4 linked regions of the Homo sapiens genome follow. The protein of the gene in region 4 interacts with the protein of the main gene of each other region in a biochemical or structural test. Each region holds a gene or a part of one and is shown on either strand. Other genes may lie near its edges. The genes, in order: OR3A1, HTR2B, CCDC88C and MPDZ.

The links.
Region 1: the proteins of MPDZ (region 4) and OR3A1 interact in a test that uses a peptide from one of them, tested with the Homo sapiens proteins (one study listed by IntAct).
Region 2: the proteins of MPDZ (region 4) and HTR2B form a complex in vitro, tested with the Homo sapiens proteins (one study listed by IntAct).
Region 3: the proteins of MPDZ (region 4) and CCDC88C form a complex in vitro, tested with the Homo sapiens proteins (one study listed by BioGRID).

What each region holds. Positions count from the first base shown.
Region 1 is NC_000017.11:3,295,358-3,302,852, reverse strand, and holds the start of OR3A1 (olfactory receptor 3A1), read left to right. Parts: upstream 1-4,492; 5' UTR 4,493-4,570; intron 4,571-7,495. UniProt on the Homo sapiens protein: Odorant receptor.
Region 2 is NC_000002.12:231,108,034-231,115,059, reverse strand, and holds the end of HTR2B (5-hydroxytryptamine receptor 2B), read left to right. Parts: intron 1-1,130; coding exon 1,131-1,331; intron 1,332-5,650; coding exon 5,651-6,543; 3' UTR 6,544-6,830; downstream 6,831-7,026. UniProt on the Homo sapiens protein: G-protein coupled receptor for 5-hydroxytryptamine (serotonin). Also functions as a receptor for various ergot alkaloid derivatives and psychoactive substances.
Region 3 is NC_000014.9:91,414,795-91,421,898, reverse strand, and holds the start of CCDC88C (protein Daple), read left to right. Parts: upstream 1-4,078; 5' UTR 4,079-4,208; coding exon 4,209-4,268; intron 4,269-4,296; exon of another isoform or gene 4,297-4,520; intron 4,521-5,060; coding exon 5,061-5,161; intron 5,162-7,104. UniProt on the Homo sapiens protein: Required for activation of guanine nucleotide-binding proteins (G-proteins) during non-canonical Wnt signaling. Binds to ligand-activated Wnt receptor FZD7, displacing DVL1 from the FZD7 receptor and leading to inhibition of canonical Wnt signaling.
Region 4 is NC_000009.12:13,108,683-13,115,708, forward strand, and holds part of MPDZ (multiple PDZ domain protein), read right to left. Parts: intron 6,653-7,026; coding exon 6,566-6,652; intron 5,340-6,565; coding exon 5,249-5,339; intron 4,373-5,248; coding exon 4,329-4,372; intron 3,465-4,328; coding exon 3,342-3,464; intron 2,059-3,341; coding exon 1,954-2,058; intron 1,383-1,953; coding exon 1,270-1,382; intron 378-1,269; coding exon 254-377; intron 1-253. UniProt on the Homo sapiens protein: Member of the NMDAR signaling complex that may play a role in control of AMPAR potentiation and synaptic plasticity in excitatory synapses. Promotes clustering of HT2RC at the cell surface.

The sequences.
Region 1 (7,495 bases), on a different chromosome or scaffold from region 4:
TCCCAGAATGAGCATGACATTGGATATGGAGCCCTAGGCTCACACAGTGCATGACAGATACCAGGCACTTTGACGAGACCAACAGCAAAGCATCTGCAGATGAAATGTGGCCACTAGCCCTTTCCCAGTCGGTCAACATCCTGCAGGTGGAGGCATGTAGGATTGTACATGTGCAAGAATTTCTTTTGGGTCTCTAATTAGGAACGGAATTAGTGCAACTATATTTAAAGAATAAAGCCCAAATTGTGTTTTCATGTGATAGTACAATTTTATGATCTCACCAGCAGTGTATAAAAATTTTTGTTGCTCCAGTTTCAGCTTTCTACATATGGCTAGCCAGTTTTCCCAGCACCATTTATTAAATAGGGAATGTTTTTGTCAGGTTTGTCAAAGATCAGATGGTTGTAGATGTGTGGTATTATTTCTGAGGGCTGTGTTCTGTTCCATTGGTCTATATATCTGTTTTGGTACCAGTACCATGCTGTTTTGGTTACTGTAGCCTTGTAGTATAGTTGGAAGTCAGGTAGTGTGATGCCTCCAGCTTTGTTCTTTTGGCTTAGGAATGTCTTGGCAATGTGCGCTCTTTTTTGGTTCCATATGAACTTTAAAGTAGTTTTTTCCAATTCTGTGAAGAAAGTCATTGGTAGCTTGATGGGGATGGCATTGAATCTATAAATTACCTTGGGCAGTATGGCCATTTTCACGCTATTGATTCTTCCTATCCATGAGCATGGAATGTTCTTCCATTTGTTTGTATCCTCTTTTATTTCGTTGAGCAGTGGTTTGTAGTTCTTCTTGAAGAGGTCCTTCACGTCCCTTGTAAGTTGGATTCCTAGGTATTTTATTCTCTTTGAAGCAGTTGTGAATGGGAGTTCACTCATGATTTGGCTCTCTGCTTGTCTGTTACTGGTGTTATTTGGCTCTCTGCTTGTCTGTTATAGGAATGCTTGTGATTTTTGCACATTGATCCCTTCGTTACACCTTATACAAAAATTAATTCAAGATGGATTAAAGACTTAAATGTTAGACCTAAAACCATAAAAACCCTAGAAGAAAACCTAGACAATACCATTCAGGACATAGGCATGCACAAGGACTTCATGTCTAAAACACCAAAAGCCATGGCAACAAAAGCCAAAATTGACAAATGGGACCTAATTAAACAAGAGCTTCTGCACAGCAAAAGAAACTACCATCAGAGTGAACAGGCAACCTACAGAATGGGAGAAAATTTTTGCAATCTACTCATCTGACAAAGGGCTAATATCCAGAATCTACAAAGAACTTAAAGAAATTTACAAGAAAAAGTCAAACAACCCCATCAAAAAGTGGGTGAAGTATATGAACAGACACTTCTCAAAAGAAGACATTTATGCAGCCAACAGACACATGAAAAAATGCTCATCATCACTGGCCATCAGAGAAATGCAAATCAAAACCACAATGAGATACCATCTCACACCAGTTAGAATGGCAATCATTAAAAAGTCAGGAAACAACAGGTGCTGGAGAGGATGTGAAGAAATAGGAACACTTTTACACTGTTGGTGGGACTGTAAACTAGTTCAACCATTGTGGAAGACAGTGTGGCGATTCCTCACGGAACTAGAACCAGAAATACCATTTGACCCAGCAATCCCATTACTGGGTATATACCCAAAGGATTATAAATCATGCTGCTATAAAGACACATGCACACGTATGTTTATTGTGGCACCATTCACAATAGCAAAGACTTGGAACCAACCCAAATGTCCATCAGTGATAGACTGGATTAAGAAAATGTGGCACATATACACCATGAAATACTATGCAGCCATAAAAAAGGATGAGTTCATGTCCTTTGTAAGGACAGGGATGAAGCTGGAAACCAGCATTCTCAGCAAACTATCACAAGGACAGAAAACCAAACACCGCATGTTCTCACTCATAGGTGGGAATTGAACAATGAGAACACTTGGACACAGGAAGGGGAACATCACACACCAGGGCCTGTCGTGGGATGGGGGGAGGGGGGAGGGACAGCATTAGGAGATATACCTAATGTAAATGACGAGTTAATGGGTGCAGCACACCAACACAGCACATGTATACATATGTAACAAACCTGCACATTGTGCACATGTACCCTAGAACTTAAAGTATAATTTAAAAAAAAAAGAAAAAAATTTTTGTTGCTCAATATTTTCATCAAAACTTGATATTATGTCGTTTCTTCATTTAGGCCAATAGTACATGTAAAATAGTGTCTCTATTGTGATTTTATTTAATTAATTAATTAATTTATTTATTTTGAGACCGATTCTCACTCTGTTGCCCAGGTTGGAGTGCAGTGGTGTGATCTCAGCTCACTGCAACCTCTGCCTCCCAGGTTCAAGTGATTCTCCTGCCTCAGCCTCCCGAGTAGCTGGGATTACAGGCATGTGCCACCATGCCCAGCTAATTTTTGTATTTTTAGTAGCAATGGGGTTTTGTCATGTTGGCCAGGCTGGTCTCGAACTCCTGACCTCAGGTGATCCCCCCACCTTGGCCTCCCAAAGTGTGAGGATTACAGGCGTAAGCCACTGCTCCCAGCCTCCATTGTGATTTTAATTTACATTTGCTAGAAGAAGCTGAAAAGGCTGGCACAAAAGTCAGAGTCTTGAGGGCAGAGACAGTCATAGTGATCAGATGATGTCATAAAAGTTGTTTTTTGAAGCAGATTAAAAAAAAAAAAGAGGGAAGGGAAAGTCTTATAGAAAAGTTGTTAAAATCATGCTTTGTGGCTTGAGGTCCAGCTCTGCTACATCCTAGATAGGTAACATTAAGTAAGTTACTAAACTTCCCCGAGCCTCAAATTCCTCCTCTGCAAAGTGGAGCAAATAACAAAGCCATGTCAAAGAGTTGTCCAGAAAATTAAGATAATGCACCAAAATAAAGCAAATATTAATGATTGCCATTTTATTAGTATTAATATTTGTTGATCCCCTACCAAGTGCTTTAACTATTATTTTATTTAATTCTTAGACCAACCCTCTGTGGTTGGAAATATTATTCTGTTTTTACACATGAAGAAATGGAAGGCCAGAGTTGCTGAGCAGCTGGTCCTAAGGCACGCCGTCAGTCACTGGAAAAGCAAGTGTGAGTGTACACCACGTCAGTGTTTTTCTTACCAGGCTCTTCTGGGGAAGTGTGAAGGGCTGGAGGTTTTGCAGCAAAGGAAATGCAAGGTCTCCATCATGGTGGGCACTTCCTGTTTGAACAGGGAGTAGGACATTGAGGGAGGGCTCGGCAACCTCTCCACATTCGCCGTTCATTAACCTCATCACCAAGAGTCTCAACTTCTAAGGTCCTGGCCTAGAGAATTACAGTGGGAAGAGACGTCCCTCAGGACCCCTTGGTCCCTCCTAACTGAACTCAGCTCTTCTACCACCAATTCCAAAGTCATGATGGGGTCCCCAAGATGCAATTCCAGTGCCCCCCAGTGCCCCCGATTAACAAGGTCCTGAGGGAGAAAGCACTGCATTCCTGAGGACTCATTAGAAAGCCAAGGTTGGAGAAAGCTTCTCCCTTTTGTCTCCATTCTTGTGCCTCCTTCTCACCTCCAGGGCAAGCCTGAGAGTCAGCTCTCTCTGCTCAGAACTCTTGTTCCGAGAGGAATCTGGGAGAACAACGCTCTGTCTGGATACTTACTCTAGCCTCAGCACCACCATTAGATCCACTGTGGCTTTGTGAAGATGAATAAATTCTCTGGACTTCATTGGTGTGGTATGATAAATGGGATTATTAATACTCCCTAATTACCCCCATGAAACTAATATGAGGGGTGCAGTAAGGAGTTGGAGGGGAGGCCTCTTTGAGAAAATCAAAAGCATCACAAAGTCATAAGGCATCATTATTGGGTTCATTAAAAGCTTGGGTTGTTTATTGCTCTGTGGCTCCCTAAACCTCCGAACCTTCCTGGAAGGGCTAATTCTGAGATCCCCAGAGGCTGACACGGCAGTGGATAGATGACTGGATGATCTCATTTCTGGCTCACTCGTTTTCTCGTATATGGCCCTTCTTTGCTCTCCGGAGCACAGGCCTGCACAGTGCTTCACCCGCTTCCTTTCCCTTCAATAGAAACCTTGCTGGCCTCTGTATCCACAACGAGGTGAGGACTCTCCGGGGGCCCCCTTCTGCTCCCTAATAATAGAGGTGGCATTTGAGTTGTTACCAAGTGGTCAAATCTCTTATTTCATGGAGGACTTACTAGAGAAAGAGAGTCTTGTTCGAGATAACATATCAAGTGAGAGAAAGATCTGGGACTCTCCCATGCCAGGGCACGTTGCCAATGCCCGTCCTTCCTAGATGAGGCCTGCTTTCTCTTTTTACTGAAGTGAGTAGGAGGGCACTCAGAGAATCCAACCTTCCTGCCTGGACCCATTTCTCGGGGAGCAACGCTGAACCAGGTTCCTACAACAGAGGGTTGTATTGAGTCACGATCATCAGATGCATAAAGGACTTAGTTGGAATGTTGGAGCAGGGATCCAGGATCACTCAATAAGGGCAGCCTGAGCCTCAAGCTGGATGCCTGAGAGTGGTAATCCAGGTGAGTCTCTACAGGTGAGGTCATCACTGTGATCCTGTGTAAGACAGGCTTCTTGGAAACATAGACCAGTGTTCATCCTAGACTCTTGTTGGGTTATATGGCATCTCTGTGGGGTGTACTCTTCTAGCCTATTCTTATTTATTCATAGGGTCTACCATTCCTAATTGCCAAATTCTTTTGAGATGTTCTATCAAAAAGACATCTCCGTGAATGGATTGTTTTAACTAATGTCTTAACTATTCCCAAATGAGTCCTCAGAACCACCCCATCTATCTTGACTCTAGAAGAAACTAATAAAAAAGAAGAACAACAAAGAAACCCCACGCCATCTAGATAAAGGGAGAAGAGACACCTACAGCAGTACTTCTGTGCCTTTTCCTCACACTTGCACCTCCCTTAAATCGTATCAATCTTTTATCGTGTTGCACAAACTCCAGCTCATCCAGAAAGCCTTTCCCAACTCCTACAGCCCAATCTGATGCTCCCTTTTACTGAAATATTGTTGCTCTTACGGTCATACTTTCAAAGTTCATTTATTTATTTATTTCAGAAATATTGAACCCTACTGTATGCAAAGTGTGACACAAGGCATTAAGAATGCAAAGCTGAATTTGGCAGAAATCTGTTGGCAAGCCACAATGGAGTAGAGGAGGTGTGCTCTATAGAGAAATGTCCGTGTGAGAGGTTAACAGAGCTAAGAGCCGTAAAGTATACAATTAAAGTGCCGCAGAGTTTAGTGGACAGGAATATGAGATGGGGCAGGACCAGGAAAACCTTTACAGAGGAAGCACATTTTAATTGAGCCAAAGGATTTGAGAACTTAGAATTAGTTAGAGGATGTTCCAGATAAAGTAAATGGTTAGAACAAAGATGGGAAGATACAGAATCAAAGGGTGTAAAACCTTACAACCTGAGTTAAAGTGGATGGGAAAGGGCAAATGAGAGGTAGTTTAATTAATTACTTAATATGTAAGGGAATTGTTCTGCTCCTATAGATATGTCAATTCACAGAGTATTTATAGTGAATGATTTTTAAGTCGATGATTAGACTCAGAGGGTGATACAACAGGAATTGTTGATTTAAGAATTTTTAGGAGACACCCTATGCAACATCTCCCAAATCCGACAGCCACCACCTTATGGGGACCTAATTTGGGATTCTAGCTTTGAGGCTTCCACCAGCTCTGCCTGGTGTCCATAACTGCTGCTCTGCCTTAATTGCAGATATAAAATGAACCTGTGTAGAAAAGGGAATCTCTGCAGGGCCCAGAGGGGGCAGCTACTGGCTGAGGGAGCAGAGAGTGAAAGAAAAGAACCAGATGTTATGCCCCTTCCATAAACGTAATTTGAAAAGCTTTCCTTCTTCAATATCCCAGTACAGTCAAGTAACATTGGAAAAAATGATTCCTTGAAAGTTTAACACAATTTTTCCATTTTTTGGTGGGGATGGCGGAATGTTGGTGGTAGTGTAATGGAATGGAGTCCCTTTTTGAACAACTTTCTCTGTATCTTTTTCCCATAGTAATTAGCTTGTTTCAATTTTTTCAACTTTTCTCGAGCAAGTTTTCACATGATTTTTAATCATATTTTACCAATTATGTCCAATTTTTCAAAAAATATAGATTGGGGTAAAGTGACTTTGTAAGTACTTTTTAATCTTTTAATGTAATTGTGATTATTTTCCTTTATAAATTGTTGTTTTATACAGTTGTATTTTCTTTTTATTGATTGAATTAATAAAAAATTTAACAAGTTTATGTACCCCTTTTCCTACCCATAAAAGATTTCTTGAACTTGTTTATTAGCTCTGTATTTCTTTCTACTCAAGTTTTGCTTTTATTATGACTTTTCTTATGGTTCCTTTTCTAATGTCTTGATTGGATCATTTAATTCTTTCGTTGTTGTGGATATACTCATTTAAGGCTACGAATTCTTTTCTGAACACTGATTTAATCCATTTTTTAAAATGTGCTGCTGTCATTATCTCCTTTTTCTTCTCCTGCAGATATTCTTTAGTTTTAGTTTTCATTCTCTGTTTGGTCCAACCGTTTCTTAAGGATTTCTTTAAATATTGGATTTTATTTTTAAAATCATGTTTCTTTCCATTGGGCTGTGATCATATATCATTGTTTGTATTATTTGTTCTTTTGAAGTTTGCTGAATTTCTGGTTTTATATATGCTGTTTCTGGGCAGTAAATGTTTCATGGGCACTTTAAGGAAGGTGTACAATGTCAATTGGTTCTACCTCTTGAAAAATATTGAGGTTTTTATCGCCTTTATTCTGCCAACTTAAATTTATATGGACTGAAAGTCACTAAAATCCACTGTTACCCTGTTTCTGACTATTTCTCTTTGAACATCCTGTGCTTTTTGCTTTACGTATCAATGCTATATACTTAGGACATTCGTTTTCATACCTATTACATCTTCTTGCACCCCTTATAAAATGCTCTTCTTTTCCTCATTTACTGACTTTTTTGAATTCAAACACATTTTATATTAAGATTATGATCCCTGCTTTATTTTCGTTTACATCTGACTGGTATTCCTTTACCTTTCACCCTTTCTAATTAACTTGGTTTTGGCTGTATATTTTGGCATCAGCCTAGAGTTGTATTTTTTAGATCCAACCTGAAATTCTTTTCTTTTACTAGATGAGCTTGGCCCACTCGGCTTTATCATTGTAAGTGTGTTTGGTACTAATTTTGTTCTGTTATGTTATACTGTTTGCTTTTATTGTTTTGAAATAGCCTTTCACTGTAAGGGCTACATTTGTCTTTGTTTTGTATGCATCCTTCCTCTTATATTTTAGAAGATTTTTTTCTAGGGTTACTTTTATAACTGTAACTTTGTGTAGAGTTCCAATACTCTGTTTTTAGTCAGTGTCTACTAATTCCCTGGTATAAGCACAATGAAATTAGTAT
Region 2 (7,026 bases), on a different chromosome or scaffold from region 4:
TATACCTGTCAAAGTCAGATATACCTGCAATAGCCAGAAGAAAAGTAGATTACATTTTATCAGTGGACATATAACAATCAAATCCTAAAAGAGACTTAGATAATCTCACATGCATGACATCTGTTCTCTACAGGAGTTAAACTGGATTCTAATGGAAATATTCTAGGGGGAATTCTAAAATTTTAGTTGTTTTGAAACTGTAAACATGTTAAGTGGTGGGTGTAATATATAATGCATAATATATTAAATTCACATATGTATGAACATCTGTGTAAGTAAATTTATTAGAAAACTATGCAGAATATTCAATATCACATCCACACCTAAAATTTTTTTAAGGTTAATATTTCTAAAGTGCTTAAGACTATATGAAGTATGCAGTGTTTTATAAGAGTTTGTTAAATAAATTAAGTACTACGTCTAACCCTGAGATTTTCTTTTCAAATCAAAAGTCTGTACTAATTATTTTATCTCCAGTTTTTGGAGTGAATGATGAAATATAGAAGGGGAAACAATCTACTTTTCTTCCGGATAATCTGAAGCCATTCCTTTTGCAATCTTTATTTGAGAACTATTTCTGTCAAAAAAATCACTCCACTATTTCACCAAACTAGAGTATGCTATAAACAAGGATCTTGCTGCTAGTTATTGCTAGAAGTGAGCCCAAAACCCAGGTGTCACAGAGACTCCCATTCTAATACGCTTTTTGTCATACTGTTTCCTCTACATGGTAAAATGTTTTCTTTTTATACAACAGCTACTTAAAAATAAATTTTATTTAAATACCAAGGTTAAGTTCCAGTCACAATACTACATAAATTTTAAAAAGATCACAAATGGAATCGACAAAAGAGCAAAGGTCATAATAATGCTAAAAAGTTAAACTGCTGCTGACTTAGAAAAAAGGCACAATTATTATGCAAAATAGAAAATGTATTTAAAAGTTACCATCCACAGAAATATTGAATTTAATGTTGTCTCCATTATCTGAAGTTAAACATTATGTTGTTAAAGTTATAAAATTTCAGATGAGTAACAAAAAAGACAAAAGATGTATCACCTGAAAAACTGTAGACTGAAAGTTGCCATTTTATAGAATAAAATGTTTGTCTTGTTTTTGTTTCTTTCAGAGGCTATGTGGCCCCTCCCACTTGTTCTATGTCCTGCCTGGTTATTTCTTGACGTTCTCTTTTCAACCGCATCCATCATGCATCTCTGTGCCATTTCAGTGGATCGTTACATAGCCATCAAAAAGCCAATCCAGGCCAATCAATATAACTCACGGGCTACAGCATTCATCAAGATTACAGTGGTGTGGTTAATTTCAATAGGTATGTAGAGAATGCCAGAGTGTGGGTGGTATACAAAATCTTTGGTTCCACTTGGCTAGGAGAATACCAGGTCTGGTAGGCAATGAAACTCAGCATGAGAGGTCAAGCCAGCCTACTGATACATTAACATAAGCTCCTTATGTCACTGCATTTATCATACGCCTTCTAAAACATACTGTTGGTAAAAAGTGTGACAAGTAACAAAACTCATGTCCTCAGAAAGAACCATCTGCACAGTGTTTATTGAGATTTCTTTCTGCTTAGATTTCTATATGCAGAAAGGTTAAGTTTGAGAACAGTCTTCATATTTCCCAACAGATAATTATGGTCTAGCTAGCATTTGGAATCCTGTAATTACATTAAAATAACAAGAAATGCACCTTAAATCACATTTTAAAAGATTAATAAGAGAAAAAACAAAAATAACAACTCAAACATTTTGTGGGCAGGTATCAAAGAACACAAATTCATCTTGGAAGCCAACATTTCTGTACATATGTGTACAGATTAAAGGCAGTTAAGTGTCTGCTTCAGTGGGTTTTTTTGGTTTGTTTTTTCTTTTTTGGAGACAGGGTCTTGCTCTGTCACCCAGGCTAGAGTGCAATGGCACAATCATGGTTCACTGCTGCCTCGACTTCCCGGGCTCAAGCGATCCTCCCACCTCAGCCTCCCAGGTAGCTGGGACTACAGACACACCCCCCATGCCTGGCTAATTTTTGTATTTTTGGTAGAGGTGGGGTTTTGTCATGTTGCCCAGGCTGGTCTCAAACTCTTGAGCTCTGGCGATCCCCCTGCCCCAGCCTCCCAAAGTGCTGGGATTACAGGCGTGAGTCACTGCACTTAAGTGTTTTGAGTATGTTTAATTCAAAGTTTTAAGAGAGATGCAAAGAAAACATACCGATGTTCAGAAATTATGTATAAAAGAAATCCTTTTTCTTCTAAATCGTCTTACGGCCCTGTACTCATCTATAATACTCAAAGCTATACTTCTTATCATGAAGTATGCGTAAATCATTCAAAACTCTTATATGTTAGTATCAGAAAAACAAATAGATTTGCAAAAATTACAATGGTTTGACCAGCAGATTCTCTTCTTCCTTGTAAAAATATTTCAAAGAGGCAAAAAATTAAGAGACCTGGAATACTTAAATTACTCCTCCCTAATCTGAGTAGGGGCACTGGGGCAAAAACAGCAAGAAAGCAAAACAATGAGATTGACCTTCATATTCCTGAAATGATGATATAAGGGCTTGATCTCTTTGAAAAAGTTTGGAGGTAAAAGCAAGCTGTGTTACTCCTCTGGTATGGGAAGAAAACAGGGTCAAGAAAAAGTCTATTCAGAATGAAGAGATTTAAAAACAGTGAGAAAAGGCTAGATGAGGGGGCAGATGCCGACAGAGCAGAACCAGCCCCCCAAAAGCAGCTACAGAAAGGGAATGGGAGACAATGGGTGAAAATTAAAATTTGAAGTGCAGAGGAGGAAAACTATAATAAAGTCATTTATGCCAGATGACTCACATTTGGTAAGCTCACTGCAATGAGGGAGAGGGCAAGGGAGAGTGTGAGGTATGTGTATATTGGGGTGGGGTGGGAGAGTTGGACAGAGAAAGGGAAAAAAAGTTGAAGAAATGGATCCTTAAGAATAATTAAAATATTTGAAACTGTGAAATGTGATCAAGCTAATAAGGTAAGCAGCCTGCTGGTATAAATGGCATCTAGATTAAGGCTGGATACCATCAATTTATAAATTGACCACATTTTTATTGAGTGTTTATAATGTGCTAGGTACTAAGAATACACAGATGATCAAGAAAAAGAATCTTTGCATTCAAGAAAGGCGGACATATAAACAAATTACACTAACACAAAGTGATGAGTGATGCAGGAGAAAAAAGATTAAAAGGAAGACTCATGATATATAGATTTAGAAATCCACTTCTTCCTTTTGTAGGTAAGAAAAAAGAAACCTAGAGGTTTTAATCAGTTGGCTTAAGAACTCTTACAGCTTTTCAGCACCAAGGCCAAAATCAACGCTCTTTCACTTCATTGCACTTTGTCTTGTAGAACCGATCACAAATTAATAACTTTGAAAAAATGAAAATGCAGATGACAATAAGCTCAGTTCTGAAATTCTACAAAATGCTGAAGAGAGCTCACTCTCTTCTTTTGGATTTACAGTTATTCTAGGTAATACCTGGCAACAGAAAGTATAATAATATAACAGGGTAAGGGCATAAAAAGTACCAGTGAAAACTTTTACAGTTATTGACCAACAAGCTGGATAGGAAAGTAGTGTGAGTCCTGATATTAACAGAATGTAAAAACTGAGATGAATGAAGTCTCATTAATAGAATGAGTTAATAGAATGTGAAAACTGAGATGAATGAATGAACTAGAGATAAAAATAACAGGAAACAGAAGTTCTCTAGGAGTGAGGGGTAGCAGGACAAGGAAGGGAAGTATTAGAGTTCATAATCTTAGGGATTGTTCTAAGTAGACTTGTAGATGGCTTTAGTGCAAATAATAATAATTAGAGTCAAAGAGTTCAAGAAATATAAAATTAAGGTCTTAGAAGGGTCACGAATGGGATGAAGTAGAAAATGCTGGCACTGGAACAGTGGAGAGAAGACTATAGCAGGTACTGAAGCCATTGATGAAGATGAACAAATGTCATGGAGGTTAACAGAAAAGCAAGATGGAGAAGAAAGTATTAAGTAGATAAAATAAACTTCAAAAGGCAAGTGTTTTGGGGGAGAAATAAACAGTGGAATGGTGATCTGAAAGTAACAGGGTAAAGCAGGGGTCAGCAAACTTTTTCTATAAAGGGTAAGACAGCAAATATTTTGGGCTTGCAGGGCGTATATGGTTTCTGTCACAGCTCCTCCATTCTGCTGCAGTAGAACAAAAGCAGCCACAGACAATATGTTACTAACAAATGGGAGTGGCAGTATGCCAATAAAACTTTTACAAAAATAGAATGTGGGCCAATGGTCCTCAAACTGTAGTATAATGACCCCTGGTGTAGAACAAGTATACAGAATCCTCTTTCTGGTGGTGTACATGAGGAAAAGTAGAGAAAGTAATGACCTCTGTTAGAAAGGGTTTGAGGAACATATTCTTGTCAATGGCTCTTTAGCTACCATAAAAAGGGTGTGTAGATGAGGGGTGCTCTTGGATTCACAAAACAACACAAGGATTCCAGAGGTTTCTAAAGATCAATTAATTCAGACATTTAAAAAATATCTGCTGTTTCAAAGGAAAAAGATTCAGGTTAACCCCTGTATTATTTGTCTTTCTAATAAGCTACTTCACTAAGAAACATCATATTTAAATACTTCATGGTATTTAAAGATCAGAAAACTAACATGAGGTATATTTCTTTCCCAGGTCATAAAAGAACTTTTTTTTTGAGACAGAGTCTTACTTTGTCGCTGAGCGTGGAGGGCAGTGGTGTGATCTCGGCTCACTGCAACCTCGGCCTCCTGGGTTCAAGTGATTCTCCCACCTTAGCCTCCTGAGTAGCTGGGAGTACAGGCGCGTGCCACCATGCCTGGCTAATTTTCATATTTTTAGTAGAGATGGGGTTTCGCCATGTTGGCCAGGCTTGTCTCAAACTCCTGACCTCAAGTAATCCACCCCCACTTGGCCTCCCAAAGTGCTGGAATTACAGGCATGAGCGCCACTGTGCCCAGGCTTCTACAGAAGAAGAAAGATTAAGAACTCATAATCTTTCAACATCATGATTCACACACACTCAAATTTTAAGTAGCACTTTTTAATGAACTTTAGTTTTCCCTAAGAAGTTAGATGGAAAGGATTAAAAGACATTCACACATATCAAAAGGAAAAACTGTTAAATGAAACTGTAACCTCAAAGACAAAACTGAGTAAAGATATTGAATAAATGTACTCTGAAGTGCCTCTAGATCAACTACACTGGATAATAAGAAAAAAGCAGGTTCTCTTCTGAATTTCTCTTCCTTAATCTGAGATAGCTTAAAAAACAAAAATAGATTATGAGAAATGTAGAATAAATGAAGACATTCTCCACTGTATCATGGATATACTATAGCTTTAGGGGAGCTTTCATTATAAATCTGAAATTACTAACCAATCTCCGTTTAAAAACAGATTTGCTCACTTAGGTTCTGTTTGTCAAATCTTCACTGATGAATGCTTCGACAAATCCTGCATTGTGGGTCCCAGGAATTATAATGCACCAACAAGCATAAAGTTATAAGGATACAATCCAAAAGGATCTAATCGAAGAGTTACAGGTCATAAAATGACTCAATTTATCTTGTTTTCCTCTTCCTTAGGCATTGCCATTCCAGTCCCTATTAAAGGGATAGAGACTGATGTGGACAACCCAAACAATATCACTTGTGTGCTGACAAAGGAACGTTTTGGCGATTTCATGCTCTTTGGCTCACTGGCTGCCTTCTTCACACCTCTTGCAATTATGATTGTCACCTACTTTCTCACTATCCATGCTTTACAGAAGAAGGCTTACTTAGTCAAAAACAAGCCACCTCAACGCCTAACATGGTTGACTGTGTCTACAGTTTTCCAAAGGGATGAAACACCTTGCTCGTCACCGGAAAAGGTGGCAATGCTGGATGGTTCTCGAAAGGACAAGGCTCTGCCCAACTCAGGTGATGAAACACTTATGCGAAGAACATCCACAATTGGGAAAAAGTCAGTGCAGACCATTTCCAACGAACAGAGAGCCTCAAAGGTCCTAGGGATTGTGTTTTTCCTCTTTTTGCTTATGTGGTGTCCCTTCTTTATTACAAATATAACTTTAGTTTTATGTGATTCCTGTAACCAAACTACTCTCCAAATGCTCCTGGAGATATTTGTGTGGATAGGCTATGTTTCCTCAGGAGTGAATCCTTTGGTCTACACCCTCTTCAATAAGACATTTCGGGATGCATTTGGCCGATATATCACCTGCAATTACCGGGCCACAAAGTCAGTAAAAACTCTCAGAAAACGCTCCAGTAAGATCTACTTCCGGAATCCAATGGCAGAGAACTCTAAGTTTTTCAAGAAACATGGAATTCGAAATGGGATTAACCCTGCCATGTACCAGAGTCCAATGAGGCTCCGAAGTTCAACCATTCAGTCTTCATCAATCATTCTACTAGATACGCTTCTCCTCACTGAAAATGAAGGTGACAAAACTGAAGAGCAAGTTAGTTATGTATAGCAGAACTGGCAGTTGTCATCAAACATAATGATGAGTAAGATGATGAATGAGATGTAAATGTGCCAAGAATATATTATATAAAGAATTTTATGTCATATATCAAATCATCTCTTTAACCTAAGATGTAAGTATTAAGAATATCTAATTTTCCTAATTTGGACAAGATTATTCCATGAGGAAAATAATTTTATATAGCTACAAATGAAAACAATCCAGCACTCTGGTTAAATTTTAAGGTATTCGAATGAAATAAAGTCAAATCAATAAATTTCAGGCTTTAAAAAGAACCACTGTCATCATAAAATTTATTTGGTTTCTAATTATATGCAAAGTTGTGCTAAGAATGAAATAAAACAAAACAAACATTAGCCTTGCCTTCCAGGTCTTAAAAGCATAAGGCATGATACAGAACAAAAGGAACACAGAGCTAAAAATAAGTGCACAAAACAGTGATCACATCTGGAGGTGAGTTAAGATTGCCAT
Region 3 (7,104 bases), on a different chromosome or scaffold from region 4:
ATCATAGAATATAGTATTTTGTGGCCAGCCATAGTGGCTCACACCTGTAATCTCAGCACTTTGTGAGGCCGAGGCGGGCAGATCACCTGAGGTCAGGAGTTTGAGAACCGCCTGGCCAACATGGCGAAACCTTGTCTCTACTAAAAATACAAAAATTAGCTCGGCATGGTAGTGAGCTGAGATAGCTTGACCCCTGGGAGACAGAGGTTGCAGTGAGCCAAGATTGCGCCACTGCACTCCAGCCTGGGTGACAGAGCAAGACTCAGTCTCGAAAAAAAAAAAAAATAGCCATTCCCTCTCCCCACCCCAAGTTGTAGTAACAATTTAAGCTCCTGCTCCTATCAGGTGAAGTAGAAATGCCATTAGCTAACACTGCTGAGTCAGTATTTTCTGAGAGGGTAGAAAATTCCTTTATCAGAAGAACACAAAATACTGCTTCTACCCAGGAAGCAATGTATTAAGCAATAGATACATTTATATCCAGAGATTAACAAGGAAAAACTTAAAAATAAAGAGTTAAGGCTCAGATGGATGGAGTGAAAGCCAAGGGTGTTCTGGAAGGATGGAGGAGGGGCATTGGGACTCTCTGTGTAGTGGTCAGTGGAGGGTCTGTGCATTTGCTCCTTGAAGCTTATGCCCCAGCCCGACGGAGACTTCGGGGAAACAATTTTTATTAAAGCAAGGGTAGCAGAATGGGGCAGGAGATGAGGAAGAGACAGTGATTATGTATCTCTATAAAGCTTTATGGCTTCCACAATCTTTTTACATGCATCACCTTGAGCTTTAATATTGTCTTGTCAAGTCACATGGGGAAAATGGTCTTATCTTGATTTTGCAGATTAAGTGACTTCTAGGAGGAAACTTGTCCAGGCCAAACTTGTCCCGTCCTTTGAAGCCTTCCAAGCTTGCTACACCTGGGGCACCATCCAGTTTGCCTGCCCCATTGCCTCCTAGGGAACAAGGGAGCTGAGTTAGATCCTTTTAATCCTGGTGGCGTAGTCAAGCCAAGGCATGGTAGCAGATACATCAATGATTATGAACCAACACAGCAGCTAACTGACCCCAAAGCAAACATTCCTGACATGGCTGTGGCCCAGGGCCTTGTCAATGTCCCCAGGGGAAAATTCCCTCACCAGGATGGGAAAAGTCTCACAACTGTCAGAAGGCATTTGTCCACTGTATTTCTTAGTGTGAAAGAATAAGCTTACTCAATAAATTTTTTTTTTTGAGACAGAGTCTTGCTCTGTCACCCAGGCTGGAGTGCAATGGTGCAATAGCAGCTCACTGCAACCTTCCCCTCCCGGGTTCGAGTGATTCTCAGCCTCCAGAGTAGCTGGGATCACAGGTGTGCACCACCACACCCAGCTAATTTTTCTATTTTTTTTGGCCAGGCTGGTCTTGAACTCTTGGGCTGAAGTGATCCACCTACTTAGGCCTCCCAAAGTGCTGGGATTACAGGTGTGAGGCACTGCACCCGGCCTCAATAAATAACTTTAAAGATTCCTCATCCTTGTCTTTCCAAAAAAATTGGAAAAACAACTTTGGCCGCATCTGCATCCCTTACTTTTCAGAAGAGAGGCTTCCGAGCGAAGAGCGGTGTGTGTACACATCATACCTATTTTTGAACTAACTTACATTATGAGCAATTAAGGAACTTTTTTAAATAAAAGATTTTTAGCCGGGCGCGGTGGCTCACGCCTGTAATCCCAGCACTTTGGGAGGCCGAGGCAGGCGGATCACGAGGTCAGGAGATAGAGACCATCCTGGCTAACACGGTGAAACCCCGTCTCTAGTAAAAAATACAAAAAATTAGCCGGGCGTGGTGGTGGGCGCCTGCAGTCCCAACTACTCTGGAGGCTGAGGCAGGAGAATGGCGCGAACCCGGGAGGCGGAGTTGCAGTGAGCAGAGAGCACGCCACTGCACTCCAGCCTGGGCAACAGAGTGAGACTCTGTTGTCTCAAAAAAAAAAAAAAAAAAAAAAAAGAGAAAAGAAAAAAAGATTTTTATTTCAGATAAAATTAATATTTCCATAATTAGGATACACACATAATTAGCAAACACACATTCTTGAGTCCATTATTTAAGGTTTATTCTATAAACGACTTCCATGAGTATTAGAGATCCTGAATGTCATCTGAATATTTGTCTACACACTTGTGGGCAGCTTCTGTAGACTTTTCTTTGTAGAAATTCCAGTTTTTCTGAATTCTTCCTTTTCCTTCAGGTTTTCCACTTTGCATTATTCATAAAAGGCTGGGTCATTATAGTGAGCTGTTAAGACATTCTTTCAATGCAGAATTTTCTTTCCAGCATTTTACTACCATAAGGATTCCAGAGTTCTTGCAACATTTGGTAAAATCTTGAACTTGTCAGAAGACCTCTCTCTGGCCTTTTCTCTCATTATTTTAGGGATCAAAACATCTTTTTCGACACGTCTGAGCTGCTGCTCCAAAAACCTGTAGTGTCTTCCCATTGTTTTTGGTATAAAAATCAAACTCCTTGAAATGGTTTACAGGACATTTCATGATTCACAACTGAAACTCCTCCACAGCGATGGCACACACTCCTCTTTGATCTCAATTCTTCTTTCTTGTGGTCTTTGCTTAAACCACTGTTCTTTAAATTTCACAGAGCAACCATCAGAGTTGTTAAATTAATCCGCGGGGTCGAGTGCCATCGCGGCGGGCGGAGAAGCAATTAAGGAACTTCTCTAATGAACTTCTGGTGCACAACAAAACCATGTAGTCTCGAAATTTTAGTTCCTCCGCAGTCCCCCATTGTGTTTTATGCTACCCCGCCTTCCACAGTCTCTAGGGACCCCTAACCGACCCCCTTGGCTCTCAGGCCATAATCTCACAACCCTCCCCAGCCCAACGGGGTCCGCCAGCGCTGGGCTGTAATACCACTCGCCACCAGCAGATGCCGCAGCCCCAACGCTGCACAGAGCCAACTTTCAAAATTACCACCGAGCCTGTCGGCAGCCATTTAGTGCCTGCTGTATACTTGCCAAGCGCCACGCAGGGCCCTTCGGGTCAACCCTGTACCAGTTGGCCCAGCTGCGAAATGCGGCGATCGTTAGGGTTAAATTAGTAAAATGGTCTACAGTGCTTTGAACAATGACCGGCTGGTGGTGTGAAATTATTACCAGGCCGAGACCAGCCTGGAGCCGGCTCCTGCCTCGTGCCGTCCCGCAAGGAGGTCCTGCCCCCGGGCTTGCCTTCCAGCCAGTTGGGGCCTTTGCCCTTTTTCCTGTCGCCTGCCACTAAGCTGCTGCTAGGAACCCCGGCTGGAATTTAGCTCGCCTCCGGCAAAGTGGTGGGGGCGGGCCCGGGTCGGGGAGGCCACATCACCTGCTTCCTGCAGGAACTTTTAGAAGGCAGGCAGCCCGGAACATGGCACGGTGGGGCACGGTAGGGCGCGAGGGGCCGCGCCCCTAAGGCCTAAACTCAACATAAAGTTTCTTCTTTGCCCTCCAGCCCAGCCCCAGGGTCGGGGCGCGTTTATCGCGCCGCGCACAAGCGTGAGGAGCGGGGGTTTGCGGGGCCTCTTGACTGTACCTGGGGCTGCACCTGCCAGGAGTGCGGAAAGGCGCAGGGCCGAGGTCCCCAAGCCCAGAGCGGGCGGCAGCTGCGGGCGACCTCGGAGGGCAGAGCAACCTCGGAGGGCAGGGCGTCCCCGCTCCCGGCACGCACCAGTGCCCGCGCACCCCAGCTCGCACGTGGCGCTCGGGCCCCGGCTGCACGCGCACGCGCGCAGGGATGCGCCACGTGCTGGGGCCCCACACGCGGGGAGGCTGCGCTCGGCGAGGGCGCGCGGTCCCACGGGCGGGGAGCCGGGCCCCGCGACCCACCCGCCTCGGGCCACCAGTCCCCTCCCAGCGCCCCGCGTAGCCTGGTCCCGCGCCCGGGCTCCCGGGCTCCCGGGCTGGCACCGCGAGGCGGCGCGCCGGTCGCCCAGGGCCGCCGAGGGGCGGGGCCGCCCGTATTGTTCCTCCCCGAGCGGCTGGCCCTCCCCTTCCCCCAGACCCGGGCGGGGCGCGGGGCCGCCGAAGCCGCGGAACGTGGGCTCGCGCGCCCCGCCTTTGTCTCCCGGGCGCGAGCCGCCGCAGCCCCGCGCCCGCTGCTCGCTGCGGAGCCGTTTTGTGCCGCGGCGCGGGGGAACGGGGACGCGGGGCGGGGGGCGCGGAGCCGGCGGGCGCAGCCTCAGCATGGACGTGACAGTCTCGGAGCTCCTGGAGCTCTTCCTGCAGAGCCCGCTGGTGACCTGGGTGAGTGCGCCTGGCTCCCCGCCCCTTTGTTGGTGCACCGGCTTCTCTCTAGCCCGGCGACGGGACGCCGCAGACCCGACACGGCCGGGGCCCCGGGTGGCTCCGGGGCGCGAGGGACGCAGCAAGTGGCTCCCGGCCGGGGTTGGGGCCGCGTCCTGGAGTCCGGAGCTTTGTAACTCTGGAGCCGGCGCCCCCGTTGTGCGTCCGGCGCGGGACCCCGCCGCGCTTTCGGCCGGGCCAGGAGCCGGGCGGGTACACCTGTTCCCGCTGGGGCTCTAGGCTGGCTGCCTCGGGGCGGACCGGGTCCCAGTGGTCACTCCTGTCCCTGGGGTTTAGCCACTCCCGAAAAGGACCCCATTCTTCCCAACCAAATATCTCATGTAGTTTTTCTGAATCCCTGAGACCAGCCGGTGGATGGCGGTGACGGGTGGGGAATGGGGGGCGCCGAATGGGAAAGCGAACAGACTGGGGTGGGCGCACTGATTTACAATGGATTTGAGACGTGAGACATTTATTGAAAAGTCCTTTTTATTTTTATTTCTTCCGCTCTGGAACGCGGGAGAAAAGTGGCGAGGAAGTTTTTCCTCCTGTCTCGTGTCTGTTGCCCCGCGCGGGGAGGGGAGACAGGCCCTAGGAGAAGGCCGGGCTTGGTGCCTGCTGAAGGGTGGTGTGGGCGTGGGTGACCCCCTTCTGCTCACACTGACCCGTCCAGTCTCTGCCTGGGAGAGCTTTGGACCGTTTGTGCGCACGGGGTGACTTCCTGTCTTTCTCTCCTCGTCCCCCTCCCCGCAGGTGAAAACTTTTGGCCCGTTTGGAAGCGGCAGCCAGGACAACCTGACTATGTACATGGATTTAGTGGACGGCATCTTTTTGAACCAAATTATGCTGCAAATGTAAGTTACCTTCTTCTCGGAGGAAGGAAAGAATGGTGCGTTAGAAAGTTTGAGAGTAGAAATGGAGTGGAAGGTTGCATGGCGGGGTGTGTGTGGGGTGGGGGGTAGTTCTCTGAAGGTGGAGACGCTGGTATCTCAGTATTAACGTGCCTGTTGGACATTCGTAGGTGTTTGAAGAACTCCAGGACAGTGGGTCTGGCAGTTGGTTTGATGAAGGAAATTTGGAATTGAATGACTGTCATTTACGTGGTGTAGATAGTGCAATTGACTTCAGACTCAAGGACTTAATTGTGGTTTGAGCAATGAAATGAAAAAGTCCCCTTTTGGAGGGCAAGGAACTGTAACGGAGAGTGTCTGGTTACAGGAAGTGTCGGGGTGGGCCCAGGCATCCGAGGGTTACTGTAAAGTTTCATTTTAGATGAGGGTGTCTGTGTTTCTGAGCTCCTTTACATTTCATCTTCCTTTTTCAGTTGCCCCAAAGCAAGTGCAATTCATTAAGTCCTACTGTATGGACTGAGTTTAAAGTCACAGTGTTAGGAGGGTCCCATGGTGCTGTTTGTTTGGAAGCATGCAGCCTGAACAGGGTCTTAGTAGAAGTTACTCTTGCCAGCGAGTACATCTGACCACATCCTTTCCTGTTGCTGAGCTCTGCACGGCCTGATTGACAGCTTGCCACAACGTAGGTGTTGGCTTCTACCTTTGCATTCTGTTTTTAACTCAAACTGCAGGGAACATTGGAACTGAGTGTCGGGATGATTCACAGGCACTTGAAGCAAAATAAAACATCCTAATGTTCTCTGTGGATCAGCCTCGTGTGCGCACCTATTCACCTACGACTGAGCAAGTTGTCATACTGGAGCATAAATCTATTAGCTAATGAGAGATCAGCTTCGTTTGTGGCTCACAAAGGCAGAGGAGCAGTTTGCTTTGGCATATCCAGAAAGTGGCTTATATAGATTGCCTTAAACAGCCTGTTTAGAAAAAAATAATTCAAGAACCTTGCTTTTTTTTTTTTTGGAGACGGAGTTTCGCTCTTGTTGCCCAGGCTGGAGTGCAATGGCGTGATCTCAGCTCACCACAACCTCCGCCTCCCGGGTTCAAGCGATTATCCTACCTCAGCCTCCCGAGTAGCTGGGATTGCAGGCATGCGCCACCACGCCCGGCTAATTTTGTATTTTTAGTAGAAATGGGGTTTCTCCATGTTAGGCTGGTCTCGAACTCCCGACCTCAGGTGATCCGCCTGCCTTGGCCTCCCAAAGTGCTGGGATTACAGGCATGAGCCACTGTGGTGCCCGGCCTCCTTTTATTTTAATAAGTCATTTGATGTCATGCTGTTTAATGGTTTTTGCTTTTTTTTTTTTAAAGTTCACAGCTGTGGGTGTAGGAAAAAAAGTCACTACCAATCTTACCAGTCTTCAGTGTCTGATTAGATTGAAAAACATAAATCTGTTGCCAGCTTTGACAGCACTTCTTAGATAACTTTGTTGAAACTGAGTTTTCCGGAAGCTGTCTCGTGGCATATTCGAGTTCTGGCCACTCTCCCCTCATTCTGTTAGACCCTGAAAATTACTGGATTCCATTGGCGCAATGACCGGTGAAACTTCAACCTGTCCTTACCCAAGCCCAAGACTGTTTAATTAAAAAAACCAGCAGTATCCCCAGCCTTTTCATTCAGCTCCTACACCCAGGCAGAGGGGGGAACAAAAGCACTGGGACTGTTTCTCTTTCTTCCCTGACCTTTGGAATTCCTGAAGCGTTTCCCACTTGCTTGTAAATCAGGAAAGCCTGTTGGACCGTTCCTTTGAGAAACGCCAGCTCATCACTTGTTCTCATTTGGCCCATGGCTAAATTCGGCCGGGGTGGTGTGGGGTGGGAGGGTTTCTCCCCTTCCCTGGGCAATTTTAGATGTTCTCTCTGTGATATGCCAAGGTAATCATTCCAGA
Region 4 (7,026 bases):
GTTCATTAATATTTTTATGTATATTGTTGAGTTTCCATGGAGTTTCAATTTGAGCCTATTTTCCTTTAAATATAATGAAACCTCAAATTGGACAAAAATATTTAATGACCTGTTCCTGTAGGGAGTTTTGAAAAGAAATGATCAACTGTTAACCATTTGGCATTACCTCAGGCCATAAACTAATAAGCCAGCTGCTGACCACTATTAATGAATGTTTAGGGGAAAAGAGGGTGGTTAAAATTTGCAAGCTTACCTTTGCAAACACTGTTTTAACATAAATGGGTAAGTCTCCATGAGGGCTGCCATATCCTCCAACTATACTGAAGCCTAAGCCATCTGGTCCTCGCTCTAGTGTAATAGACTTACATTGAGGAGGTCTACGGTGAAGGAAAGGAAAAAGAGGTTTTAAATTAAAAAAAAAAAACTATACATATATGTTATGAATTATCTGACATCCACCTAGAGCTAGCATAATTCTCTTTGTTACTGACAAGGAGTATATTACGGGTATTTTTGAGATGCTTAAATTGTCAGTGCATGCTGTGCTTGGTATTTTAAATTTACATAATCTAATGAAATCCTACTTAACACCCTAATTCTATTACTCATTTACAGTTCCCTTAAACTAACATATTCATGGCATGTTCTCATTGTACAGAGAAGCTCATTCTTTTTCCAGTTTATTTAAAGTGAGAGGGCTAAAGTTCAGGGGACTATATTAGAATAAGTCATAAACATCAGTACGCCCAAGCTCAGAGAGAAAAATCAATTATAAGCAATGGAAAAGCTGCATCAAATTATTTAAAATTTCTAATGCGCCTCTCTCTTCTCCTCTGTTTTCCAATGCTTTTGTATCCAAGTATTGTTACTTAATACTGTGAATTTTTTCAGTCCAAATGATAATATATTAGATGAATAGGCAGTGCGGGAAATTTTAAAATGATAGATTTGACTTGCTCCATATTACATGAAGTGGTAACATCAAGACTAAAATGTCCTCCGCCCCAAAATCAGAGCTGAAACCATGGGAAGGGTAGTAGCACGCATATCTATCTAGCTAGTTATCTATCTCTACTTATCTTTGATCAGCTAAATCCATGCCACAATTATTTAAGTTTAGAAGCACCTGATATGTATAATTCACACTTCATATATCCTATCATTTTACCTGTACGTAATTCCTAGAAACATGGGACAGAGAACGCAACTGTCAGGAAGACTTGATTCATAAGTGAAAAATGATACACTAATCATCATGTATGAACTCACCCTAAATCATCCTGAAATATACTGCTTGACGTCAGCCCAGTGAAAGAAAGACTGGAACTTGCAGGCTCCTGCTGATGACCTGTGACCACACTCACGTCTCCTCCAGCAACCACCTGCGCACAGGAGGAGGATAAACAGAAAAAACACATGTTCCTGTGGCTAGGGAAAGTAATTTTTCTTCAGAAAGAGCACTTGGATTAAAATGTATATTTTATTGTTCATTTAAACATTTCTGTTAACATAAAATACAACCAAAGAGAATGAAATTTCACAAGGTCCAGAGGCTCTTAACTGTCCTGACAGTAAACATATTCTTCTAATTCTATTCTACAAAGTTCTTTGATGTTTTTAAAATGTGGTCTCATATGTAATTACTTTTTAAAGATCTTTAGAATATAAGCCACTTGCTAGCACCACTTAAAATTCCAGCAAATAATCATGTACTGCTAAGGCCTGGATTTTTTTCCCCTTAAAGTATAAAACAATCAATGCATCAGAGTAAAATGTTACAAAATATGTCTCATATGCACTTTATTGGAACTCTTAATTTAATCATTTATGTTCAAGAGAAATATTAAATAAAATAATAGCAGAAGATTTAATCATTTTTACTGCTTTAACATCAAAGCTCATGTGTCTTCAGGCTACCTATATTCTGAATTATGCTTGGGATAAAAATCTTACCTGCATTTCAATGGAGCCAGATGCATTTTTCAGTAGGTTAACTGCTTGGGTGTGAGTCATGCCCTCAGTGGATGTGCCACAGATGGTGACAATCCTATCCCCAACCTGCAAGGGAGAGAAAGAAACAGCCATCTGCTAAAGCAGCCATGGAGAGTGGGTCTTTGAGACCTAAGTATTCATTTCCTTCTCCACCTTCCACATGACATATATACTGCTACCAGCCACTGAAATATAACCAAGGAAACCACTAATTCCAAGAAGTCCAAAAAGCAGCAACCACAAAAAGAAGCAGTGCATAATGGTTGAGTTCCATATCCAGGGGAGAGGGAGGGAGAAGGAGAAAGTCACTCTTCCCTGCTCTTCATTTCTCTTGGGTGAGACATTACTTCCTATTAAAAGAAAAAAAAATTCACTATCATTTGGAAACTGAAATTTCTCTGGACATTACTATTATAATCATTAGATGTGACTCTAAGTCGGAGGTTGGCAAACTAAGGCCCAGAGGCCAAATTTGGCCCACTGCCTGTTTTGGTTAATAAAGTCTGGTTGGAAGACAGCCATGCTTATTTGGCTGCTTTCACAGCGCAGAGTTGAGTAGTTGCAACAGAGACTCACAGGTCCCACAAAGCCTAAAATATTCAGTATCTGTCCTTCCAGAAGTTTACTGACCCTGTGCTATGTATACAATCAGGTTTTAAGTGTCAGCCATAAATTTGGATATCAAACGAGGCTGAACCATTCCCAGCCTAAAGACTATTTAAACTAAAATGTGGTTATGTTCTGAGACCTATTTGAGGTATGAAACCATAGAGATTTTGCTTTAGAGAGACTGAGTTGCGTTAATGGAATATTCATGTAATTTTTAGAGCTGGGCAGTTGGCATAAATTCCATTGCAATGCTCCACAATTTGGATAATCCCTCAGCTTTGAGGCAAGTTGCATATAGTTTTATAACATTGTAAGTCATATTTATATTAAACTTCTGCAAAATTATCAGTGAATGCAAATAAGTAATACTTTTCAATTTAACAGAGTTAAATCGGCGTTTAAACCAATCAAATATATAAGATAAAAATTTCACTTCATACTGGTGTTCTGAAAATACTTTCTGTTCTCTTTTAGCTTGTTCCACAGAATTTCAACATATAAAAATATGTATTAGGAAACAACTATAAATCTTCCTATTTAACTGCAAATCTGCATTTTCTCCTTTCTTTTAATATTCTTTATCTTTTATTCCAAGCAAGCCTTGCTGTGGTTGGATTAGATGATTTAAAAGTAAATATAGATATTTAAAACTGCCTTGCAACAGGTAGCCAGGTTCAAAGGTTTATAAAAACACTTCTGCACATTTTGCTAGGGCTTCTAGGGTTGATAGTACGACTCACTCTGAGTTTTTGGGTCTGTGCTGCAACTCCAGTTGGGTGCATCATTGCAATAAATATAGGCACATCACCAAGTGGGCTGCCTACTCCTCCAGCGATGCTGATTCCCAGTGAGTCAGTAGGGCCCTGCCATGGAACAGATATAAAATTTTGGTCAAAGTGATATTTTTCATTGACCTTTTGTTTATTCTTTGGCATGATATCTATAGTCAACTCTGATTTTCTAAGTGTGAGGGGGAAAATGAAGAAGTGCAAGAAAACTGCATTACTTTACTTGACACAGGTGCTTAGCGTGGCTTAGGAAAATAAGCATCTGTTCAGGAAGTAAAATAAATCAAGACATGCTAAATGAAAATCATGTTGTGGAACTGATGAAAAGCAGGTAAACTCATGAAGTGAAAAGACCACACTTTTGGAATCAGAGTCCTGTGTTCAAAGCCACGAAGTCATACTTGCAAATGCTGGAACTTGGAATAAGTCCACTCCACTCAATAAATCATTAGATCTTCATTTACAAAATGGAGACAACAGTGCCTCTCACAGAGGGCTGCAGTGAATATTAAATGACATGATGATGACATGAAGTGTCTATAAGAGTGCTCAGAACAATAGTAAAAGCTCAATAAATCACAGCTGCTTTTACTTTGTCTCTTGTGCATGGCTGTCAAGGGAATCTGTTTCAGAACTAATAAGTATCTGTTGAAGAGAAAGGTTTACTTATAAGAAGTGAGAGGCATGGTATTATTTTGTGTGGGGTCAATTTTATGCTATTTTCAGCAAAACAGAGCATGCAAACAACGATTTTTCAAATGAGGTGCTGTGATCAGGAAATTCATTAAGGACTACATTATGTTATTTCACATGTAATATGTAAGAATACATACTTTTTGAGATGAATACTTTAAAACCGTAAGAAAGTTAACAAGAAAACACATATGAAGATGTCTCTTAAAACGCCAGGGTTTATATTGTTTTCTCTCCCCAAGTTACCTTTTTCATTTCGACTGTTCTTAATCCCTGTATTTCAGATGCCACTGTAAAGGCAAAAAAGATAAAATAGGGTTATTTTATGTTCATTCACTTTTTATGTTCGTTAAAATATCTAAAGCTGGATGGGACTAAATGATAACCTAGGTTTCTTTTTTTAAGGGGGTGCTCAAAGCTGCTAGTACACATGATTAGATCTGTCTTACACAGAACTATTTATTTTTCCAGTTGGAAAAACGTGTATACCATCCCATTCTTCCTTCTCATTTTAAGTGTTGATTATATAACTATGTAATCCACTTTGAATGAGTCAAGGGCAGAATGTGTTTTGCATAGAAAGGCACATGTGCACGGCTGAGAGGAATAAAGTCATGGATGCATTAAAAAAATTCACAAATTTAAGTGCCTAAATTTCTAGAATATTAGTCATACTGCAAACAGAGATTGCCATATTGTTAGTTTCTTCAATTTGAACAACTCTCAACCAATGCACCAAGCCAAAAATCCCTCTGCAGCATGATTTCACGTAATTAAAACACAGGAGGATCACATTAATTTTCTCAAATTTTTGCAATCTTCATGGAAAAAGAAGGCTTCACTTAATGGCATCTTCTGATTTACTGGTGTTACATTAAACACAGAAAAGGAATAAAATCAAAAACACCAATCTGCTTAGTAAGAAAAAAAAATTACAGAATCCTGATTATAATGTTTAGTGTATCTTGTAGGGTAAACATCAAATGGGAAAAGCTGCCATAGGCAGAACTTCATGTTGTTCAGACTTTTTGCTAACACGTGTTTTTGTACCTATATTTGGATATGGGATGATTTGGGGGAAAAGAAAGCTCAGAGGTAAACAAGACAAAAAAATCAGTGTTGACAGCCAAATTCAAACCATGTTTAAAATACTGAACCAATCTTACATGCATTCTTCTTTGAGCTACTTTCCAGTGACTCAGATGTACTGGATCCAGAGAGTGGAAAAGTGAAAGATGACAGGCTGCCTTCACTCACCTACAAATATACAACAATTATTTCAGAAGGTTTTGCAAGTAACATACTCCCTAAATACCACTTATTTCAGAATTTAATCTAGAGACAGATACCTGTTAAGCAACAGTGGCATTTGATAATTTGATGAGCAATTTAAACACAGTTCCTACTGATTTTTTTTCTTTTAAACAGAGAATGTGTCTAGTGACATAAATAAATTGAAGCTAAAAGGGTAGATGAAATTGATTCCAATCTACCTAAAATTTTAGTGGATAGTCATAATCTCATTCAAACTAATCTTCTTTAAATTTAAACTGATGTTGTAGGAAGACTAGGACTTAAACAAAAACTGTAGAATTAGGGCCAGCTAATAGGAAACTCATGGTAGTAATTTAGAAAGTTAGTATGGGGTCTTTAAGGACAGACTGATGAAAATGGGTTTCCATCATCAGTAGACAACACTGAGGAGAAGGTCAAGAGGTCTTGTCAAGAGTCTTGAAATATTTAACATCATATTTTTATACATGGTGCTGAGTATCTATAGTTCACTTATATGGGACTTTTCAGTTGAATATTGATTGATGTTGCTATAAAATATTTTTAAAATATGTTATCTTGGGGCCAGGTACGGTGGCTCATGCCTGTAATCCCAACACTTTGGGAGGCTGAGGCGGGTGGATCACGAGGTCAGGCGTTTGAGACCAGCCTGGCTGACATGGCGAAACCCCATCTCTAATAAAAATACAAAAATTAGCCAGGCATGGTGGTGCACGCCTGTAGTCCCAGCTACTCGGGAAGTAGAGACAGAAGAATCTACTTCGCCCGGGAGGCGAAGGTTGCAGTGAGCTGAGATTGTGCCACTGCACTCCAGCCTGGGTGACAGAGCGAGACTCTGTCTCAAAATAAATAAATAAATAAATAAAATAAATAAAATAATAAAAAATTTGTTATCTTGGTAGGCTTTACAATTAGGTAGTTACCTTTTGAGATTATGGAAAATGAATCATGTCAAAAAAGAATGCTTGAAATCAATTTCCTTAGAATGACTTACAAACTACTCAACAGCCACACCTTGTTTACCTGGCTATTCTGATTCCTTGTTCTTCTCTGTCTCAAACTCTGCACCTCAGTCACTATCCCACGCTGCCAGGGGACCAGACCTTGTACACAGACCCACAGTCAGGGCCATCTATGTGTCCTCTTGGCATGCCGATTGCATCGCCCTGATGAACTCCACAGCTACCCACCTGGCTGCTTTGAGATGGCCTCCTCTCTGAATGGAATGGACCAGCTTTGATTCTTCCAACTTCCAAGGTTACTGTGCCTAGGGAACACTGGGGGTGGGCATGGGGGGTGTTTTATGGAAATGTTTAAATAAAATGCTATAATCATCTTTAGGAATACATTTTACTCTTCAAGACTTTTTTGAAAGGCATCTTCCTTTTGGAATTTCTATAAGCAAGGATACCTCCAATCCCTTGTGGAAAATGGCTTTTTATAAAACATTCAAACTAATAAAAATAATCAGCAGCAGCAACACCAAGTGTTTACCTTATCACCTCATGATTTCTATGGAGACTACTTGTACCAAAAAGAAATGGAGAATTGAGCAATTATCTCATGAAACACACTAATTTTGATAGGACAAACAAGCTGAATAACTGAGGGTTTAAAAAACAAAGCGACTGTAATCCCACCACTTTGGGAG